Regions from separate parts of the Homo sapiens genome. Here region 2 is linked to region 1. Evidence: fine-mapped expression QTL. Tissue or cell type: prefrontal cortex. Region 1 holds a variant in brackets; the other region holds the start of a gene. All regions are shown on one strand. Distances are from middle to middle.

Region 1 (2,998 bases):
GAACCATGCTGGGTCCTTGAGACCAGCTCCCCACGCTCTCTAGAGCCAGGCACGACCACTTGCTGATTGGAGACAGGCTGTGCTGCCGCCGGCTGGCCTCGCCAGGGCTACACGTCCGTCTCCACCCGCAGACGCTCCATCCTGCGGACATTGCCCTCCACGGCCACACGGCTGGTGATGAAGCGGGCAAAGTCCTCGGGGAACCATCCCGTCTCTCCGTCCCGGAGCCTCTCGCCATAGAGCCACCCTGAACCCGGATAGGGGTGGGAGGGAGGTGAGGGGAAGGCCGTGGGTCCCCCGGCCCCTCTGAGCTGCTATGCCTGAGCACACCAGGGCCAGGCTTCTCCTAGAACTGACCACCTGCTCCTGCTCAGAGCAGACAGCTGCTGAGGCCTTGCTCATGGTCACCGGGCACCCAGCCCCTGCTCAGGTGCTCGCCACTGAGAAGGGTGCTGGGCTGAGCACACCCCACACAGCGCTGCCCGGCATGAGGAGGAGCCCTGCCTGCCCTCTGCAGGCTCGTGCTGGGCCTGGCTGAGCGGGGATCCCCTGGGAGGGCAGAGACACCTCCTCCTCCCCACGTGGGACACAGTGACCATGAACCTGCTTTTGATTCTGAGGTTTGGGGATGTGGGAGTGCTCCCTTTGAGGAAGCCCTCGAGAGAGGGTGAGCACATGGTCAGCCTGCAGCCCGGCATGCTCTGGACCTGGCCAGGCTGGACGCTGACTCACGCCCGCCTGTCCGTTCCCACCCATCTGTGCCCAACGCCCCTGCACTCACCATCCTCCTGCTGCAGAACCAGGACCACGTCCGCCTGCTGCAGTGTGACCTCGTCTGCTTGCTTCGCGAAGAAGGCCTTGGTGATCTCCACCTGGGGCAGGTCTGCATAGGGCAGTGGCCATCACAGGGCTGTCGGGAGGCATGGGCCAGGCTCCACTCCCCAACGGCCTCCAGCAGACACATCCCCCGGGGCCGGGGCACCCCATCCCCCGACTGCCAGGCCCCAGCACAAGGCCAGGTGCCAGGCTCACTTGGGCTACAGTGGGGGCCAAAGTGCCAGCCACGGCAGAGGGCCAGCCCTGCAGGCCCCAGCCCGCACTCACCTCCTTTGCTGGAGAGGCCCTGCCACTGTCTCTCACTGTGTGTGAGCGCCACGATCCACCGTGCCCGGTCACTCCTGGGGACCAGAGACAGCATGAGCCAGGCCTGGAGACCGATCCTGCCCGTCTGATGTTCCTTGACTTCTGACAGCCACCCATGGGGGCCGTGGCAAGGAGATGGG[GGT/T]GGTGGGGGTGGGCAGGAGTGGCTGGGCAGACTGTGCCAGGCAGGCTAACCCCCAAGTCACCCCAGCCCCAGGTCACAGAGTTGGGTAGTGGCCACACACCCAGACCCCAGCCTGCTGGACCTGAGGCCACCCCGTTTCCTGGCACTGGGCCCCAGCTCCCTGCCCCCTCCGTTTGCTGTGACAGACTCAGCCTCAGCATCCTCATCTGGAAACGGCCCAGAGCTGTCCTCAGTCAAGACGAGCTGAGAGGGAATATGGAGACTGGCGCACCTGTGTGCCTGGCTTCCACGGGGGGCCCGCAGAGACTCCATCAGTGCCCCCTCCCATTCTGAGTGCCAGGACCACCCTGCTGTCTGAACTGGCCCCTACCGGCCAGGGTCGCTGCACCCCAGCATCACTGCTGTCCACCTGCAGCTGTGCCCTCGGGGCCTCAGGGCTCTCCTGCCTCGGGGCCTCTGCTGAGCAACCCCACACTCCGGCCCCACCTCCCTCTGCTCACATGGGCTAAGCTTTCCTCACGGCACCCCCCGCACCCCACCCCCCACCTCGTTTCCTCCCTTGTTCCCACTCCTGGTGGCCCAACTGTTGGTGCGTCCCCTCCCGGGAACATAAACTCCATGAGGACAAGGCCATTTCTGTTGTTTCTGGCTCTACCTCAGCACCTACAGCAGGGCCAGGTGCACGGTGGGCGTTCAGAGCCAGCCATGCAACAGCGAGCAAGGCAGGGGGACAACCCGGTCCCCATGGAGCTAATGTGCCTGTGGCCTGGGAACAGCCCTCCCGGGAGCCCACTTACGCGGAGTCCGAGGAGAGCAGGAGCTGCTCCTGGCGGCCCTCGCTGTTGCGAAGCAGGGTCACCTGGAAGGGGTGGGGCACGGAGGAGCTACGGTTGCCGCCCCCGGGCAGAGGGAGCTCAGACGGCTCTATCTTCTCCACCTGGATGTGGTTCATCTGGGCGTAGTCCTGGACCATGTAGCTCTCCTCGCTGTGGAGACACGGGCAGTCGGTGGGACGGTCCCACCCAGCTCCTACCCAGTGCTGCTGGGCTCCCGTCCAGGTCCCACCCGGCTCCCCTGCAGTGGTGGGGAGGCAGCCACGGACGGGCTCCAAGAGTTCCCGCGTCCCACAGAACAGAGGCCATGGCTTTCGAGTCCTCCTCGTGGCTATCACCGGCAGACCCAGGTCTGCAGAGGAGGTCAGAGGCTGCACAGCGAGCGCCACCTGCCCCCGAGTGTCACGTAGAGCATGTGCCGAGTGGAAGCCGCGCCTCGGCTCTGAGGTCAGAGGGGCTCAGGGCCAACTCCCTGTACCCTCCTGCCCCAGGGCCAGCGGTCCAGTGTCCATGGAGTGGGGCTCCCCACACCCTCCTGCCCTAAGGCCACCTCTTCTTCTTGGTCACAACCAGGACATCGTTGAACAGGAAAAGGTAGCACGTTGGCCGGCTGGCAATTTTTCGAAAAAGTCCGGTTTCTTCCACTAAGAACAGCTCTCCGCGCTTCAGCAGCCACCGGGAGGCAGAGATCAGTGGGAGGGACTGGGGGGACAGAGCCGGGAGGCGGAGATCAGTGCGAGGGACTGGGGGGGACAGAGCCGGGGTGAGCAGGTCCCCAGGGGGTCAAGGACGCATAGCACCAGGTGGGACTGACTCCTGCCTCTGGACTGGGTGACCAGCTGGCTGCCCTCAGTCGGGGCTGGACAGAGGAAAGGGGCAC
Region 2 (2,500 bases), 25 kb after region 1:
GGATGTGAGCCTGAAACCCACACACCTGGGAACTATGCCACGGAGGGGTCAGGACCTGCAGCCAGGCACAGCACCTGGACCCTCTTGCTGGACCCCCAGCCAGGCCCACACGCACCCCCTAGGCCCCCATGTTAGGTGGTGCACAGACTGTTCCCCTCAAGGACACAGAGAAGATTCAGGCCTTGATTCAGGTCAGAAGCAGAGGTCACCAAGACCTGCCATCGCTGCCACTCCCTCAGTCCCCCCACCTGCTCAAATCTCAAAAGGGATACTGTTCCCATTTCACAGACGCAGAAAGAGGCTGAGCGGCCAAGACAAGCGGCCACGGCTCCCTGGTAGGTGGGACGCACCCCTCCCCCTCCCCATCTCCCTTCTCAGGGGAGACAAAGCAGGTCCCTCCCTGCCACCGCCCACCAAGGTCAAGGGTGGGGGAGGGGCGTATGGTTTGGGTTTGTCTTGGGTGTGGGGTTCTTCCTTCTCGGGGCTTTTCTGAAATTTTGGGGCCAAAGCAGGTTTGGGTGTCAGATTCCCCAAAGAGCTCCCGGGAGGGTCGTTCTGTTCCGCCCCCCACCCCATGCTCTTTCAAACTCCCTGGGGCTTCCAGAGTCCTCGGCGCTCAAGTCTGAACCCAGGTTCCGGTTGCATGGAAGTTTTCCTTTAGGAAGAGGAAGCGGCCACTCGGGGTCAAGAGAGGGCAGCGAGCGAGCGGGCGGGGGCAAGCAGGGGGCTGCCTGGTGTGTGTGGGGGGGCGGGTCCAAAGTCGCATCCGGCTCAGCCCGCGAGCCCCGCCTCTCCCGCCCCGGCGGAGCCCCAGGAGGGTCGCGAAGTTGTTGCGGCTGCCGGGGCGGGGCTTGCGGGAAAAGCGAGGGGGAGGAGAAGCGCCCCGGGTTCCCGGCGCCTCCCCCGGGCTAATCCCCCCACCCGGCTCCCCCGAGCCCCGACTCACCTGTCCCCCGGCTCACCTGTCCCCCAGGCTCACCTGCGCCGCGGGGCGGAGGGACGGAGGGGCGGCGCGCTGGCGGTGCAGCTTCCAGCGCCGGGTCCTGTCCTGTCCTGCAGCCGCTTCGCTCCTGCGGCAGCGCGGTCCGGCCCGGGGCGCCTCCTCCGCTTCCTGCGCGGTCTGGCTGGAGGGCGGCGGCTGCGGCCCCGCAGGTGGGCGCTGGGCGGGCGGGGCTGCTCCGGGTCCGAGGGCCCGGGCGGGGAGGGCCGGGGAGGGGGCGGGGCGCGTCCCGGGCACCTGTGGCGGCGCCGCCTGCGTCACAGGTCACAGCCCCACCTGGGCCGGCTGGAGCCCACGTGATCGCCCGGACTGGATCGCGCCTCTCGATTCCCGCCGAGCCGCCGCCGCCCGGTGCCTGCGCCTTCCCTCCCCGCGCCCACGCCCCCTCGAGGCCGGCCCGGGAGTCGCCTGCCAGGCGTGGGGCCAGAGCGGCTCGGCTCCCTCCTGCGTCACTGTCCTTCCAGGCCCCGCTCCACTGCCTCCTCCAGGAAGCCTTCGGGGAAGGAGACCAGCCCTGCGGGGACCGATGTTTGCTGTAGAAAGGCCCGGCCCTCTGGATTCTTGGAAGCCAGGCGGCCAAAGACAGCCAAGAGGGCGCAAAGCACTCTGGCCACCTTTTTGGTGTGGTTGAGTCGCGGTCATCCCCATTTCACAGAGAAGGACCGAGTCCTGGAAAGGAAGGCGCTCGCCCTCGTGCACAAGGCTGAGCCTGGACTCCGAGCCTGGCCTTTCCTTGCTCCGCCTGCTGGGAACCCGTGTGAAAGTGAGGGAGGGCCCCGGGCAGAGGCTGCAGCAGCCCCCCAGCTGGGGGTTCAGGAATCAGGCCACCTGGTGCTGTGGGAGGGGCTGGGGGCTGAGCCAAGCCTCCCAAGCTTGGGCCTGGCCATTCAGGAATGTGACCTGAGGTCCCAGGGCTCAGACCCACTTCTGACCTGCCTCCATCATCCCCTTTTCAGGAAAGGCCTGTTGCCAAAGGCCTCCATGTGAACATCCACACTGGGCTTTGGGTCAGCTTCTACCAGCGTCCCCTCACTGACCCCAGGCCTTGGGGTCGTGGGCCGGGCACCGGTGTGCCAGCCAGAGGCACTGACCACCCTCCTCCCAGGACCTGCCTCCCTGGCCTGGGCGGCCGTGAGATCCCGTTGCGGGTTGAGGAGACACCACAGGCTCTGGGGCTGTCACTTGGCATTTTCTCAGGTGTCATAGGTAGAGGGGCGGCCTGCCCTGCCCCTCCTGCTCTGGTCGCCCCACCCACTAGTCCCCCAATGTCTGCCCTGTGGCTGGGGCTGCCTGGGTGTCAGGTGCCATCTGGGCAGGGCACAGGCTGGCCTCAGGGATGGGTCCCGTGGGCCATCCATCCCCTGGGAGGGAGGGTGGATGAGGGAGGAGCTAAGAGTTGACCCCTGTGGGCTGCAGCCTCCACCTGGAGCCGCCTGTGGGGAGGTTCCACTTCCAGGCAGCTCTTGGGAAAGGCAGGTGGCTGCTGCCCTCCTGAGTCCA

Which allele goes with the higher level. Alleles are on the strand shown, and positions count from the first base shown. SD is a standard deviation of normalised expression in the study named.
With allele GGT in place of T in region 1, the expression in prefrontal cortex of the gene that starts at base 1,126 in region 2 is higher (moderate effect, 0.43 SD a copy in BrainSeq).

The links.
Region 2: ARHGEF16 starts here. The variant in region 1 is fine-mapped to the expression of ARHGEF16 in prefrontal cortex (BrainSeq, PIP 0.95).

The regions. Positions count from the first base shown.
Region 1 is chr1:3,477,697-3,480,694 of GRCh38, reverse strand. ARHGEF16 (Rho guanine nucleotide exchange factor 16) reads right to left here. Exons shown (of 15, transcript NM_014448.4): 11 at 2,669-2,820; 12 at 2,083-2,271; 13 at 1,105-1,178; 14 at 782-883; 15 at 1-247. The coding sequence ends at 108. Among named protein-coding and RNA genes, the nearest start is that of ARHGEF16, 25 kb to the right of the region's middle. The variant GGT/T (reference allele first, on the strand shown) is at 1,284.
Region 2 is chr1:3,453,291-3,455,790 of GRCh38, reverse strand. It overlaps ARHGEF16 (Rho guanine nucleotide exchange factor 16), which reads right to left and starts at 1,126. Exons shown (of 15, transcript NM_014448.4): 1 at 980-1,126. RefSeq lists an enhancer at 2,292-2,500.